Regions from separate parts of the Homo sapiens genome. Here region 2 is linked to region 1. Evidence: fine-mapped expression QTL. Tissue or cell type: whole blood. Region 1 holds a variant in brackets; the other region holds the start of a gene. All regions are shown on one strand. Distances are between the middles of the regions.

Region 1 (8,100 bases):
CTGCTGCTGCTTCCATGCGGGACCTGCCAGCCCCATCTTGGGTCCCCACACTCACCCCTGCAGACTGACTTCCTGCAACCCCAGACCCCCAGCCCACTCCCCATCCTGGAGAAGGAATGCACAAGGAATGTTCAGAGCTTTGTTTCAAAACAAGATGCAGTAAACATGGCTGCATCTGGGCCCTCCCACACTTACTGGGGTAATCGAAGGCATAGAGAGGGACGAGGGAAGTAGGACAGAGCTTCCTGCACACACCACCCCTGTCATCCAGCCCTGGACCATCTCGGCCCATCGGTGGGGCTTCAGCTGCCAAGGGTGGGGTGGCCTGTGAGATGAGGGCCTGCTCTGCAGAGGACCAGACAGGAGACTCAGTGTGGGCTGCGGGAGGATGGCAGACGCCAAGTGAGGCTGTGGGCAGGGAAAGAGGTGAAAACGGAAGCTGCCCAAGAGCCAATACCATGGCATAACAGTGGGGCCCTGGGGTTCGCCCATCAGCATTCACATCCGGACTTGGCAAATCACTAGCTGTGTAACCCAGTGCCTCAGGTTCCTCGCTGGTAATGAGAGGGTAATGACTGCACCTGTTTCTGAGTTTGAATTCAGTCATGAGGGTGAAATCAGAATCAGAATTCTGATTCTGTTAGATAAAGCATGCGAGTGCTTAGCACAAGGCGTGGAACATATTAATTACCCAATTAGTACAGCTTCTGTATAATTGTGAGGGTAGGGGTCACGTGCCCTTGTTCGTGACCTCCTGAAGCTCCAGCCCACCAGCTGTCCTTTGGGGTTGGGTCCTGGGCAGTGGAGGCCCTTCCTAGTAGCTATGTTCTTCCTCCTGAAAGGAGGGAGTATCCCTTCCTCCCCACTGACCAAAGGTCTGGTGGCTTCAGGCCAGGACTCGGTTCTGCTGGCAAGCCTGAGGGTAGGTGCAAAAGCCCACCTTCTTTCTTCCTCTCTGAGGGGGGTAACACAGACCCTGGGGCCCAGAGAACTTGGAGTTTTATCCACGGTGCCTCTGTGCAGTTGTTAGTGGGTAGAGAGCTATTATCCTAACTCCAGGAACAAAAAGTGGCCTTGGGGTCATTCAATGTAGCCAGAGAAGAAGGAATAAATGAATGAATTCTCCAGGGAAGAGGCTTAGAAGAAGAGTGAAAGAGAGGTGAGGGTGAGAGCTTGGAAGAAATGCAGCCAATCCAATCCAAGCTTTCATATCTGGCTCAGGACCAAGTTTTGGAAAGCTTGGATGGGGCCTGGCTGCTTCCATTTTCTTTATGCTCATGGCCACGGTGATTCATTTAAAGATATTATGTCTAGGCCTTGCTCATTGGAAGTGTGCTGGGCACTAGTTTTTTCAGAATGAATTAGTCACTGTTTTCATCTCCACCATGATTGCCCTCACCACCAACACCATCATCAATATCAGAGCCCTCCCCACTGCAATCCCCTTCAGTCCCTTCCTTGAATCTCATCTTTTCCTCTGGCACTATTTAAGGAGTACCATTAGAGACAGTCAGTTTTTGTTGGCAGAATGAAAAGTCAGCACTATCATCACCACCACCAGTGATGACATCATTACCACCACCAGATTCTATATCACCTCTGCCACTGATGTCACCATCACTACCACCTCCACCATCATAAATGACATCACACCTCTGCCACCAACACCGCCATATAATTAGCTTCACCACCATCACTGACATTACTACCACCATCACTGACGTCGCCGACATCACCATCACCATCACCGCCATCATCACTGACATTATTGTGTTATTGTCATGGAATTCTTGAGGTATTCCTTTCCAGCTTGAAACCTGTGTGGACAGTGACGCCTTTGCCTGAGTTTTGCTCGGGCCTACTGGGCTTGTTTGCCCACTCAGCCTGGCAGGCATTCGGCTCGCACTATTGGCCTGGAGCCCACACTTGCCAAGGGAGAGCCAGACATGGAGTGTTGAAGTGTGTGTGAACGAATGAGTGTGGGGTCTGGCCACTGCACACAGACAGCCAAGCATGCCAGCTGTGGTGGGAGGGGCAGCTCCAGATGCTGGTATGGGTGCTGGCTGCAGCTGGACCAGGAGTACCACAAACAGCATCCATGGCTGGCACAAGGGAACGCAGCGGTGCATGGAAGCTTGGAGACACCAAGAACCACAGAGCCCCAAAGACGATGTCACAGCCCTGGCTTGGGGAGCTCCTAGGTCTGGGATCCCCAAAAGGCTATAGCTCTTCTCTCCTCTCTTCTCTCCTTCCTGTCACCTGCAACATGGCAAGCAAGGGGTGGGTTTCAGCCCTCTTTGTGTTATAGCTCTTTCAACCCTGCCATTCGGTGGGTCTCAAGTTTTGTCCCACATCCAGGAAGAATGAGGTATGTGGACAAGTGGAGGGTGAGCAAGGCAAAGAGTTGCTTTATTGAGCAACAGAACAGCTCGGAGGAGACCCGCCCTGAGTAGCTCCTCTCCACAGACAGGTCATCCGGTAGTCTGCCTGAGGCTGGCTGAGTCTGGGGATTTTTATGGGCTTCAGAGGGGAGGAAGTGCATGCTGATTTGTCCATGGGTGGCCATGGGCAGACCCAGAAAAAGCCCCATAGGTTGTCACTCCAGTCTGTGGAACTGGCAGCCTGGCCCCTAGTCCTCAGACTGTCCCTGGCCTGAAGGTGGGGTTCACCAGGATCTGCCCCTTTCCACCCAGGATCTGCCTGCCTCCTGCTGTCATTAACCTGCCATCCACGGTGCCCAGGCTGTTCATGATGAGGGGTGCCTGAAGGCCCATGCCGAGCCATCCTTAGCACCCACCCCCTCAGCCTCTCTTCCATGCTTGTCGGTGCCCAAAGTCCAGAGGGGGGCCAAGAAGGCATGGGGCTGGTGTGTAAGTGCTGCCCCAGGTGTGAGCACACCTGGCCGGGTTGTGACAGCACCTGGTCTCAGCCACAGCTTTGCTCCGAAATCAGAGTGGGCACCAGGAGTGGGGAGAGGCCAGGCAGTGGGAGCAGGCAGTTCTGAGCCTGTGAGGGCATGGGGGTTTCAAGGGCCCCCAAGAGTGCAGAGATGCCTGGGTCCACAGCCATGGCAGGGTGGCTGCAGCTGTGCCAGGGAGGGTGGGGCTCCCACCCCTCCAACTTGGAAGGGGGCGGGGCTCCTGCCTGTTTCTGGCTCCCACTGGCTCCATGGAGCATGCAGCCCTCACTGCGCCTCCCCCACTGCAGCTGGCATCATGGCAGTGGCTGCTCCAGATGGGCTGCCACTGCCATCATTAGAGCAGTCCAAATGGTCTAAGACAGTACTGAATAAATGCATGCTGAAATAAACTAGACTGTCATAACACAAACTTAGGCTCTAGGATTTCAATGCTTCCTGTAGTTCTATCTCCAGAATGGACCCTACTAGAGAAAAACAACACTGGGCTGTATAAATGATAAACTAAGTGAGCCAGAGAAGGGGGAATAAATGAATGAATTATACAGCCCAGTGTTATTTTTAAGGACCTGCATAGCAGCATGGTGGGAAGATCCTAATCTACAGTCTGCTGGGCTGGGAGTACTGCAGATGAGCTGAGAGAAGCTCCACTCTTCCAAGATT[G/A]TTACTTTCATCACTCCATCACCTGGGATTTATCTGAATCTGGATCAATTTGGTGTCAAGATTGAATCCACCTCGTCCTTAAGACCTAACAGGTTTTCAAATATGCACCCTAGTAGACAAGAGGCTCCTTGCAGATAACACAGGAAATGATGTGAGGTTCAAGGAGGGGGGCTTGAGAGGGGTGGTCGGGGGAGAGGGCTCTGGGATCTGCACCCAAACTTCATCCGCTGGGCTCCTGGGAAGGACTGTGTAATAAAGGGGCTCCAGTGCTTTTAACAACAGATTTGACAGCAAGTGGTCTAGAAGATGAGTTCTTAAATGTTTGTTTTGAAATAGATGTTTGGCATTGTGTGTAGGTCCCAACCAAAAATAATCGGCCATCTGAAGTCACCAGTCTAAAAGAAGCATTAGAAAATGTTCATCTGATGTTTCTATTGATTGTTCTCTTCCCAAGGCCAAAACTAGCTCAGCAAGATGTCTTTTACTCTTGTTCTCTGCCTCTCTGGCAAAATGCAAACACAGTTTCATCCTTGGAGAACTGTCTTTCATGCGGGAACACTTATTTAAATAAACTGCCTTAGGAACATAAAAGCAAAGGAGAAGTGTAGTATATGAATTGACCCATGTGCCTCCCTGCCCAGCAAACATGAGCTCTTTAGCCATGCAGAGAAGGTGTTGCTGGGGGGACAGGCCCTCATTCTTCAGCATTCCCCCTCAACCTTCCAGCAAAGATACAGCAGCTAAGAGACTCAGAGCTGGTCCTGGATGGGAGACTGTCGCCTGAGGGGAAGGAGACCAAGCACTCATTGGGGACATAATGGCTTTGGAGTGATGGTCACTAAGAGTGCCAGGATGGGAGCAGAGGGAGGGACAGTTGGCTGAAGAGTGAGAGGGATGGCCATGCCTTACCTCTAAGGACCAGTTCACAGCAAAAGCAAGGGATCCCTCCTGCCCATGTGTAATGTCAGCCCTCCTGAAAACTTGTAGTCACTGGGCAGGGCAGTGTGTATGTGTGTGCATTCGTGTGTGTGTGTATGTGTGTATGTATGTGTGTTGCTGAGCAGCTCTGGGGGCACCCAGCCAGCCCCAACCCTTCTGCAGTTTCAGCCTTTCTGGCCCATCTACATGTCTTCCCTCAGAGGGGCCAGCTAGAGCATGGGGCAGGCTGGACAGGGGCTCAGGGCTGTGGCACAGCCTGGGGGAGCAGGTGTGATGCACCTTTTCCTCACAGAGCAACTGACTGCCTGGCCAAGGGCAAAGAGTGCATTCTCAAGAAAGATTGATCAAGACTGGAAAATAAAATGTAGCTTGAGGACACATTTGCAGGCTGATAAATGAAGGCACAATTATGAGGGAGGCTTTGAAACCAGGAAGGGAATTGCCTGCTCATCAGATAGTTCTTCCAGGCCAGCCCCTTCCACAGACTAGCAGGAAATCTCTGGAAAAAATGACTTAATTGTGTGATTGATGTGACAGGACTCAGGGGAGCAGTGGGGGTGGGGGCAGAGCCCCAGGACCAGCCTTCCTCTCAGGACCTAAGTCCAGATGAACTAATCCTTATTAAATGTGCTCAGTTTTGTCCTCCACAGGGGTCTGGAAGCCTTTCAGAGCTGGTTCTACTCTAACCATTTGTATCCAGATATGGATCCACCGCAGCCTTGGAAAACCCTCCATCAAGGAGGAGCCACTGACCCAGTCTCTTCCAGCAAGCACCCTCCCTAGTCTCAGAATGTGTCTCTCAGCCAGCCAGCCTCTCTTCCTATCGTACGACCCTGTCTCAGCCCTCATGTGCGTCCCAGCCCCTAAGGTCAAAGACATAGCATCCACCACAAACCATTATTCCAGAGGACTGTTTATATTGCAGCTGTTTTATCTACTCCCTCACTCCAGTGCCCCTGGCCTTCATCCTGCCCATCGAAGGCATCAGTCCACTGCGGGCTTTGGTGTCCTCAGAGGAAGAAATCCTTTAATGTCTGAGGAACCTAGGGAGGAGGCAGGTGGGAGGTGCACAGACATTGGTCTGTCCCTTTCATTCTTCGGTTCTTCTAAGCAGCGACATTCTCCTGAGCCTCTGGGTGCCCAGACCCACTGGGATGGACACAGGGAATGGGGGATGAGGGCCCTGCTCTCAAGTAGTACAGCCTGCTCAGGGAGGAAGGAGCTACATGTGCAAACAACGAGAAGACCATGAGGAGCAACATGCATGGGTCAGTGGTAGAGAACGTGGCACAGTCTGTGTCTCTGAAGTTGAATGCACCTGCCATGGGCTGCGTTTGGGAGATCAGGATAGGCTCTGATGAGGAGGAGGAGGAGGAGGAAGAAGAGGAGGAGGAGAAGGAAGAAGAGGAGGAGTACGAGGAGGAAGAGGAGGAGGAGGAAGAGGAGGAGGAAGAAGAGGAGGAGGAAGAAGAAGAGGAGGAGGAAGAAGAGGAGGAGGAGGAAGAAGAGGAGGAGGAGGAGGAGGAGGAAGAGGAGGAGGAGGAGGAAGAGGAGGAGGAGGAAGAGGAGGAGGAGGACACATCATTGGGGCAACTTACATCCTTCTGGATGAGCTCAGCATAAACCACGCAGGCGGCAGAGATCAGCTCATCAGCATCAAGGTCGATGAGGTTGTTGCAGGCCTGCATGGGAGTGTGGGAGCAGTTGTGGGTGGGGCTGGGGCAAACATCTCCCAGCACTCTTGGGCACATGCAGCTGCCTGCAGCACCCAGGGAAGAAGGATGCTGCTCACAGCAGTCGCTGGGGACCACCTGACCTCTCCCCAGCCTGCTTGGCTCAATGCCTAAAATTTGATATTTTGGGGCAATGGTAAATGTTAGCTTTCATGTTAGGCTCTAGGAGTCCTGGGGCTCCACCAAGTGTCTTAGGGGCTTTGAAGGAGGACTTGGTTTATAATTAGGGTGTCACCTAAGATTTGTTTCTTCCAACAAAGACTTCAGTAGCTTTTTTAAAATGGTGGAAAACTCTAGGTCCTTCTGTTTCAGCAATATCCTAGGGCCACAGGGTTAACTGCGAGATGGTAGAGCTTAATAGTTAGGGAGTGTTCAAGGCCTCCATTTCCTCATGTGTTAACTAGGGGTGATGATGATGGTTATAGCCTCCCTGTGTCAAGCTTGTGGTGAGGCTTAAACAAGCTCTATTAAAAGCCCTTGGCACGGTAATCCGTACCTTAGATCTCATTGCCCTTTCTGTCTGGGGGGAAAAGGTGGCACTGGTGCCCAGCACCCCATGAACCCCGGTCTTTCAGCTGGGGTGGGGTGGGGTGTCAGGGCCTCCAGGAGCAGGGGTGGTAGCTTGCCCGAGGGTGCTCTCACCAGGAGGATGTCATCCCCGCCCATGCTTTCCTGCAGCACCTGCTCCCGCACCATCTGCAGCATGCTGTAGGCCACCAGCACCTGGAAGTTCCTGCAGGGCTTCCCCGTCAGCAGAACCTGTGGGTCAGGACGTCTCAGTCTGGGCCCTGTGGTCTGAGACTGCAGATGCCCTGAGGATGGTGAGGTACCCACCAACCACGTGCCTGGAGTCAGCCATTCCTGGGCCTTGCTGCTGACTTGCTCATTCAATCATTCCTTCATTCACTCACTCACTCATCCACTCACTCAGGCATGTGCTCACAGGTACTCCTGGTTCTAGGCATTGTGCTGTCTCCTGGGGGTTTCAGAGATAGAGGCTTCAGGGAATTCATTAGATAGAGGAAGGGGAGGGAGGCAATGAGGGGTGGGAAGACACTAGGAAACTGTCGAATTTGAGTGGGGTTTTGGCAAGCAAGGGTTGATGGGAATTAAATGACCCAAGGATGTCACCAAAGGCCTGGGTGTGGTCATGGACTTGGGCATGGAGACCAGCCAGCCAAGAGGCAGGTGGGAATAGATCTGTGGGGCCCTACATGCCAGGTGGATGGTTGGGCTGGACACTGCAGGCAGCGGTGGCCATGGGCAGGGCATTGATGGGTGGGGGTGGCATTCCTCAGAGGGTTCATCTGCTGATGGCCCTGAGGATTGTGGTCACAGGACTACAGGTGTCCTTAGGGACCCACCTTCTGTGAGAGAGTTCCACAGGAGCAGCACTCTGGGGAAGGGGAAGGCCAGGGTTGGGGGGACAGCTGGGGAAGTGAAAGCGTGGGGAGGCCACCTGGGCAGGGCAGCGGGGAAGTGGAGCTGCAGGCCCAGGCTCCCACTGCACAGGCCATAGGGCCCTCCTGTGTCAACTGCTAGCAGAAGGCACAGTCAGTGGGGCCTTTGTGTTAAATGAACATATGGACAAAGTGATGCTCCAGCTTCCTCCAGCAAGGTGGGAGCAGGGTTGCTGACCTAACAAAACCCCGAGATACTGAACTCCATCCAAGCCAGGAAGAAAGGGGGAGGCAAGGAAGACTTGCAGCTTCCACTCTGCCTGATGGGTGGAGCCCAGCCTGATGATCCCTAGCTGGACACCTCACCTCCCAGAGCCTCCAGACATCATCGAAGGACTTGAAGGCACGCTGGAAGCAGAAGCAGAACCAGGGGAAGAGGGACTGCACA
Region 2 (8,100 bases), 38 kb before region 1:
GATGCAGATGTGGGAGGTGAGGACCACAGAGGCAAAGCTGGCAGAGGGGTCCATGCTCATGCCCTGCCCCACCCTGCCCGCAGGCTGAACATGATATCCTCCTGGGTCATCTCACTGTGATGCAGAGAGCACAGGTTCAGTTTGAATTCAAGCTCGGCTGTACCCTTCTGTGCCACCTCCCTAGGCCTGTTTTCTCATCTACACCAGGAGGACCATAATCTGCACCTCATTAGGAGGTTGTGAGGATGAATGAAACTGCACATTGAAGTCAGTAAGCCCAGGAAGTGGTCTTCAGCAAATGGCCAAGTTGGTATTATTATCCCTGCCTCTGGGCTCTAACTCTGGAAGCTTGTTGGGTGAAGCCTGCTTTGGTCCTTCCCTGCATCTACTCCAAACTCTGCAGGGGAAGGCGAGTGACCTGGAGGGCAGAGGTGGGCAGGCAGCCTGTGGAGGTGGGGTGGAGCAGGCCCAGGTGAGCTAGGGGCTCAGGCAGGAGAGGTGGTAGCAGGCAGCCAGGGCTGCTCTCAGGGACTGAGGGTCCAGACAGGTCTGGCCTCTTGGGTGCAGGAGGCTGGACAGAGAAGGAGGTACCCTAGAAACACCCTTGCATGTGTCTAGGGAGGTGTAACATCTAGGCCCACGAGCAGCATGGTCCCATGGGGGCTGTGGAGGCTTGAGAAAAGGAGGAAGAAAGGACAGGAAGGAGGTGCCTCTAACTCTGGAGTGCTGGGCTGAGACACTAGATTTTGTCCTAAAGGCCCTGAGGAGCTACAGAATCTTCTTGAGCAGAGGAGTAACCTGGTCAGACTGCAGGGGTTTATCTGCCCCACATGCAGGACAGACTGAAGAGGGAGAGACTGGGAGCAAGGGACCAGGGAGGAGGCAGCTGCGGTTCTCTCCTGGCCTCTGATTGGCCATGTGAAGTCAGGGATAGAGGACACACGTCAGGCAAGGCTAGCACAGCCATCCAAGATGCCCTGGGAGGATGCCCAGGGCTGCCTGTTCCATGTTCCTTTCACAGGATTGCCAGAGCCGGTGAGTCAGGCGGGGGGTGCGAGGGTAAGGCCTTGGGAGGGGAGCTTTGGTCTTCTGGGGCTGTGGGGCTTCTTAGGTGGCACTAAGACCCCCAGCTCAGACAAGCTGAAACTCCAGGGAGGCAGGAGCTGAGGCGAGGATCCCAGGAGAGGAGGGCCTGGTTGGTAATAGCAGGAGTGGTCACATCGAGGGAGCCGACACAGTGCAGGAGACCCAGCTGGGCCTGGGAAGTGGCTGGCCACCCTCCAGGCCTCTCTTCAAGGATTTGCTATGAGAGCCAGGCAAAGTATGTGACCCTCTCTGGGCCTCTGTTTCCTCTAGTTTCTTTTCAGTTTCATGTTTCAGAGTTGGAGAGAATGGTACTGCAGGAAGCCTTGGGCAGTCTCAGTGCCCAGGGTAGGAAGGAAGAGGGCACAGGTACCCGAGGAAGAAACTGGGCTCAGGACAGGCGCTTGGAAACCACCCACCCATGGAGGGAGGTGGGTGGTGCTCACATGTGCTTGGTGTTGTGAGGACACGTCCACGCCCACACACACTCACAGGCTGCCAGCGCCCAGCCTCAGACCCCTGGGTGTGTGGCCAGGAGGAATGAAGTCAGTCTCGGAGAATCCGCCTTGGGCTCCCACACCAGGCCTGGGGGTCTGATCTCAAGCACAAGGCTTGGCCTTCCCTGGGCTGGGATTTTCCACGGTCTGGCCTAGCAGGGTGGGGAGGGAGGAACCAATGATGGGAGAGACTACTGCTCCCTCTCTGGCCTCTTTGTGAGCCCTAAACTAGCCTGCAATCCCCTCCCCAGCAAAAAACACACTCCCACCCCACACCCTCAATGATTAGGGGAAGGGGCACCTGGATGGTGCTGATGACCATCCCTTGCAGCAATGCTTAGACATTGCTTCCTGTGGAAGTCTCCCTGAGCCCTAGCCCCTGACAGGGAGGGCCCTCCTCTGGGCTCACAAAGCCCCTGGCCCCACCAATGCTTGCCTAATCACAGCACTGAGATGCCCCTCCTGGTAGACTGCCCCAGGGAAGGGCCTGGACTTGATGCATGTGAGTACACTCAGCTTGGCACCTAGGATGCTACCTTCAGGGGAGAAATGTTTTTGACCCAAAATGAACTGTGGGGCTCAGGGTAGTGGCCAGAGGTCTGCTAAGCACCAAGCACCCCCACTTCAGACATGGCCTTGCCCTGTCCCATTCCCCTCTCAATCAACTGGCTTCCTTAAGAACTAACAGCCCAAAGACAGGCCCTAGAAGACCCACTGACTTGGTGCCCAGATGCCAAGTCCCAGGCATGCCTCTGCCAATATTGTGGCATTTGAGAGCTCAGTTTTCTCTGCCCAGAGGTGGGGCCCATCAGGCTGAGCCTCATGCTGAGGTCTTGCATTCTAAGAAAAGCCACTGCAAAAGTTTAGCACCCTCTAGGTAAAACATCCTATTCTCCAAGGGGCCCTAGAGCAGCTGATGCATGGCTATAATGCGCCCTTCTGCAGGGATGCTGCAAGTACCTGGTAAGGACCAGAGCAGGTGGATGCATCCTTCATCACACCACAGAAGGACCTGCCATCTGATTTTTCCTGAGCTCCTGCAGGTTCTTAAAGTGGGATTCAGCACACAACTCAAAAGCGACACCTTGGATGTGATAGAGTGAGTGTTCCCAGTGGAGACGCTCCTCTCCCCTAGTCTTGGCCTCCAGCAGTACCCAGGGAGACAGGCACCCCATGAGCAGCAGCCCCTCACTGAGGTCAGCTTGGCTGGAGACAAAGCATCATCCCTCTGCTGACAGAGGCTGAGGAGGAGGCTGGGGCACTAGCACCTATACTCTGAGGCACTGGAGGGCTCAGTCAGCCCTTACTTGGTGGGCCAGGCACAGCAACCTCAATGGGGAGCAGAGAATTATGGGTAGAGGAAACTGACGACAGCTTGAAAGAGGCAAGGCAGAGTTGGACTGCATAAGTATTGGGGACTGAGTAGAAAACCTTGGCCCAAAAGCTGCCTGTATGGAGAGGGTAGCAGGGAGGGGGATTCTAGGACAGCAGAGAATGGCTGATGGCCGTCCAGCACTGGCCACACCCACCAGTCAGCCCTTGTCACAGTAGCCCTGTCTGCTAACAGCATGTGTGGAAGCTGCCTTTCCACTGTGTCCTCATGTGCAGAGGGCTTGGGCCTTCCCAAGAGGAGGACGTATGTTCACCCCCTGAAAAGCCAGAGGGAGTCCTGTCCACAGCTGGGGCTCTCCGCCAGGGCCAGGACTAGGGTGAGGGGAATGAGGCCAGTGAGGTGTTTTTTTTTTTTTTTCCTCGGGGTGCAAAATTTTAGGGGGTGCCAAAAAAACTCAGTAACGGAGATAAGTAATATTTAACACAATAGTTTTTAAAATAAAAATTAATGCAAAACTATCTGTAATGAACAAAATATCCAAATATCAAATAAAGACAGGATCCGTGTTGCTGATTTTTCAGTTAGCCTCAGGCTCCAATATGGCTCGGCATACCACTATTACTGACTCTATTTAAAATCTGGATATTTCCTTTATCACAGGTTTTTTTTTTTTTTTTTTTTTTTTGCATTAATTTTGACTTAAAAAAATACATCTCAATATTACTCATCTCAACTACTGTGTTTTTTGGTAGCCCCTGAAATTCTGCACCCAGGCCAGTGCCTGACTGGTCTCTCTTGCCCCAGCCTTGCAGACTCCCCTGAGGAAGTCCGGACTCCTGCCTGGAGCACACGCTCCCCTCTAACCTCCTGCGCACTCAAGCCAACCTCACACATGCCCAGTAATGGGCAGCCTGCCACACCTCCAGGGGCATCCCTTAAGGCCTTTCTGGCCCTGAAGACTCAGGTTTCTGATGCTCCTTGCCTCACCCTGTGAGCTGGCATAGAACATCTCTAAGGGGGGAAGGAGATGCCCTCATTGAAATGAGGGAGAAGGTGGATGAGGGGCTCCTTCCTTTTGTCCTCAGATGACCCAAGCCAAGTGCAGAAGGCGAGCCTCCTCCCAAAGCTCGGCTAGTCCCTCCACCAAAGCCAGGATCAGAGCCCACACCTGCCTGGCCAACCCCTGGCACTGATGATGCCTGGGTGCGGGTTAAGCTGGGAGGTGAGATGCCAGGGGGGTGCTGTTGGCTGGGTCGGGGGAAGTCGGGAGGGGGCGCTGCTCCGTGCTTAGCAGCTCCGGGGAGGCCTCCAGGAAGTTCTAAGGAGGGGCCCGGGGGGCCCGGAGCAGTTTCCAGTGGCCAGGGGTACGCGCGGCCGGAGGGGCGCCGGGGCCGTACTCACCGCGGCCGTTCTGGTTGGGCCGGTACACGCTGCCCACGCTGAGGCGGCCCTGCTGCGCGCCGTTCCGCTCCCCACCCGGCGGGGGCGTGTCGGAGCTGCGCACCGGCAGGTAGGGCGGCTCCAGCGCGCGCGGCGGCCCGTACGCCTCGGGCGGCGGGTTGGCGTAGGGCGGGTACCAGCCCAGGCGTGGGTCTCCGCCATGGGCCTGCGCCGCCTCGGGACCGGGGTCAGGGTAGGCCTGCTCGAAGCCGGGGGTGCCCTCGCTGTACAGACTGTGCGAGTAGCGGCGGTCCAGGCCGTCGGGGGGCGGCGGCGGCGGCGGCACGTAGGGCCTCTCGGGGGCCGGGTAGAAGCCCTGAGGCGGGTACTCGGGCAGCTCTTCGCCGCCGCCGTACTCCTCGTAGCGCGCCCGGGGCTGGTAGGGGTAGATGACCCCCGCCGAGGCCACGGCCGCCGCCCCCGCGCCCACGCCGCCGCCCGCGGGCCGGTAGTACACGAAACCCTGGTCGTAGGTCCGCGACGCGGGGTCGTAGTTCTCGTACTGGCTGACGAAGGGCGCCTGCGGGTAGGGGAACTGCTGCGGGTAGGAGGGCTGCTGGCGGTAGGTGCTGGCGAAGGCCGAAGCCGAGACCGAGGAGGCGGAGCCCCCGTGCCGTTGCTGGGAGACGGAGGTGCGGGCCCGGGCCATGCCCGTGCTGTCCCCGACGGCCACCTCGCGCCAGTTGTCGGGCACCTGGCCAAAGCCGAATGGGTGCCGCGCCTGGCCGCGCACGGTGTCCGAGCCCACGCGCCCCGGCAGGGGCAGGGACGGCGCCTGCCGACGCCGGGGGCTCCCGTGGCTGCGCCGCTGCTGGGCCTGGGGCGCGCCGGCCAGCAGCACCCGGGAGCTACTCTCGGAGCGCTGAGGTCCGGCCGGCACGTACTCTGAGCCCGAGTTGAGCAAGCTGTACACCTGCCCGTTGTTCTCCCACTGGATCAGCTGCCGCCAGCGGGCGGGGTCCGAGCCCTGCCCGGGCTGCGCCTGCTGCCCGTGCACCAGCACGCACAGGCAGGCGCCCCACACCAGGGCCCCCAGCTGCCGGCTGCCTCGGGCCAGAGCCATGGTGACCCCTCTGCAGAGGCCTGGTGGACAGAGAGGCTCTCAGGAGTGGCCCCCTGGGCGTGCTTCTCTTCCCACGGCCTCGAGGACAGGAAGGCTCCTTGCTTGCCCCAGCTCTAGCTTTGTCCATGCTGGCCTTGTCCCGAGCGGGACGGCTCCTCCGATGACAGCATTTCAAGGCCAAGGGGTCAGGGCAGGGCAGGGGCGGTGCCCAGGGCTGCACGAGGCTCTCCGCAGGGCACCGGGCGGGCAGGACCGCCTGTGGGCCTTACATGGCCAGCCCCGCACTGGCTGGCCGCTCGGCTGGCGCTTTCCCACTCTGAATGAATAAGCAACAGGCTGGGAGCGTCGGGAGGCTTCGGCCTCCTGGTCCGCCTGCTGGGGCCTCCTCCGCGGGGCCCTATGGCCCGCCGGCTTTTAGCTATGCGCCGGTCCCACAGCTGCAGTGCTCCCTCAGTCCCTGGAGTTCCCAGCCAAGCCACAGACCTGCCTCTGAGGAAGGGAATCGAGCAGGGAGTAGGAGGGGACCTCTGGGGACTCGGGCCTGGTAAGTGGGGCTCTGGCAGGCAGAACGGGGCTGGGGTGTCAGCACCACCCCGCCCATTCCTCTCTGCTTTGGTCACAGCATCCCTGGTCTCCACCTTGCTCACTGGCTTCTCGTTTGGGCTGGAATGGGCCTCTGACTCCTGTCTGCCCCAGCCTCCTTCCCGTACTCCCGGGTTCTCCCTTTTCCTTGTTCCCTAAAGCCAGTGCTAATTAAGACACACCCTCTTTGCATGTTCCTTCCACCATTATCCCACACCCTCAATAGGAAGAAAAAAAAAAAAAAGACACACCCTCTTTGTTGGTGGGCCTCCTCGGGGAGATGCTGAACAGGGACCACTCTCTAATTCCAGGTCCCAGGTGCACCGCAGCTCTTGGGCCTGCGAAGAGAGGCACTGGAGCTGCACCTTTTCCCTCGTGGCACACCTCAGGGGCTTACTTTCCCAGTCTGAAGAGTGGGGTGTATCCCTGAGCTGAAAAGCACTTGTGAGATCCTGGGAGAGATCAACTTCCCAGACATCACGTATGGTTTCTGTCCTACATCTCTTGGCTCTGCATAGCCTGGGAATAACTTGAGTGTACACATGGATAAAATGAAACTGGGGGCTGTCTTTGATATGGGACAGGGGTCACTGTGAGGCAGAGAAGCCAGTAAGCATTGAACAACAGAAGGGGGTTCCGGAGACCTGGCCTGGTCCTGTTGCTGTGTGGCTTAGTCCCTTACTCTATCTGATCCAGGTGCCACGGCTTACCAATGGAAGATTAGGCCAGATGGCTCCTGAGAGTGCTTTGGGAGATTCTCTGTTCCTTCTGGGAATGGCAGGGATAGGAGGGGGTCCCAGAAGTTTGAACGCTTTGGCATCCAAGAAATCACACTCCAAATACTGCTCTTCTGGCCTCCCCTGGGCTGCCTTCTCCAACCGTGTTCCTGGGAACCGAAGGGCAGAAATTGCCCTCTTGGGCTTATAAACAAGGTATGAAGGACCTGTCCTTAATTTGGCTCCTGTATATTCTTTATTTTGGAAATGCCTGGAGCCCACCTAGAGAGGAGGCAACTAGAGTGGACATTCTTTGGGAACTATAGACCTCCCAACCCCATCCTTGCCAGGCAGCATTTGTTCACCCATTGCACTGTTCTTCAGGACTGAGGCTTGGACTCCAGCATGTCTCTACCCTTTAAATGCCCAGAATCCAGCCCAGAGGTAGGGGGCTTCCAATACCTCCTGGCCAGCAACTTGTCAACGCTGACACCTCAGCTCCCCAGCATGGGGTTTCCATCTCAGACTCCAGACAAGATTCCTCCAAAGAGCCACTGGTGTGACTGACACCAAGCAAGATGCTGAGGCAGGGCTTACTGAGGGCCGGGACCTGGAGGGTTAAGCCTTCCCTCCCTCCTGCTTGCCCCCTGCAGTGTTGGCCTCAGCTGCTTGGAATCCCTGGGGTCCTGTAGGGCCCTCCCGCCAGCCAGATGGGCAGCTGCTGCAGCAGAGGAGGGGGAGAAATGGAAACAGGCCTCAGGGTACCCCTAGGCAGGGAGGGAAGGGAAGAGGAGTGGAGGGAGGACAGAGGATGGCTGTGAGGAAGGGAACTCAGTTGCCCTAACGTGAAGGCAGGACCCCTCGCCTTGACTCGGACAGCAGGGCAGGGGCTGCCTCAAGGCTTTGGATGTGGGGGGATCAGGGCACATGCCATTCCACTCAGCGGGCCTCAGAGCCAGCTCTTGGCGTGAAACCTTACCCGATGCTGGCTCCTGCTCCTCTCTCTTTTTTTCTTAATAAGGTCGAATCAGAGTGAGTCAGAGGAGCCAAGTTTCCTGTTAGGCTCTATTTGAATAAACTCTGCTCTGAACATAGCCTGGGCCTCTGCACAGACTCCCCTGGCCAGGACTGCGCTCCTGCCAGCCATCCCTGCTGAGATGGAGACCTGGGGGTCCACACCATGACTTGAGCTAGGGACCTGGCCTGGCCCAGCCACTCCCCGGGGAAGCTTTTTAAGCTCTCAGAGCTTCAGAGTCCCGTCTGTGACCTGGGGGTAATCATACCTTTCTTGTGGCATATTTGAGAGGATGGAATGAGAGGATTATGAAAAGTCCCCAGCACAGAGCCAGACATGTGGCCACTATTTTCCTTCTTTCCTCTTGACTT

Evidence for each region. PIP is the estimated chance that this variant, and not a neighbour inherited with it, causes the effect.
Region 2: LOXL1-AS1 starts here. The variant in region 1 is fine-mapped to the expression of LOXL1-AS1 in whole blood (TOPMed, PIP above 0.99).

Annotation. Positions count from the first base shown.
Region 1 is chr15:73,886,531-73,894,630 of GRCh38, reverse strand. TBC1D21 (TBC1 domain family member 21) reads right to left here. Exons shown (of 11, transcript NM_153356.3): 8 at 8,019-8,100; 9 at 6,895-7,011; 10 at 6,118-6,201; 11 at 5,417-5,562. The coding sequence ends at 5,530. Among named protein-coding and RNA genes, the nearest start is that of TBC1D21, 17 kb to the right of the region's middle. RefSeq lists a silencer at 7,260-7,518. The variant G/A (reference allele first, on the strand shown) is at 3,581.
Region 2 is chr15:73,924,100-73,932,199 of GRCh38, reverse strand. It overlaps LOXL1-AS1 (LOXL1 antisense RNA 1), which reads left to right and starts at 3,952. Exons shown (of 3, transcript NR_040069.1): 1 at 3,952-4,135. It overlaps LOXL1 (lysyl oxidase like 1), which reads right to left and starts at 5,738. Exons shown (of 7, transcript NM_005576.4): 1 at 4,315-5,738. The coding sequence starts at 5,416. RefSeq lists silencers at 4,231-4,280, 4,371-4,490 and enhancers at 3,565-4,398, 4,399-5,232.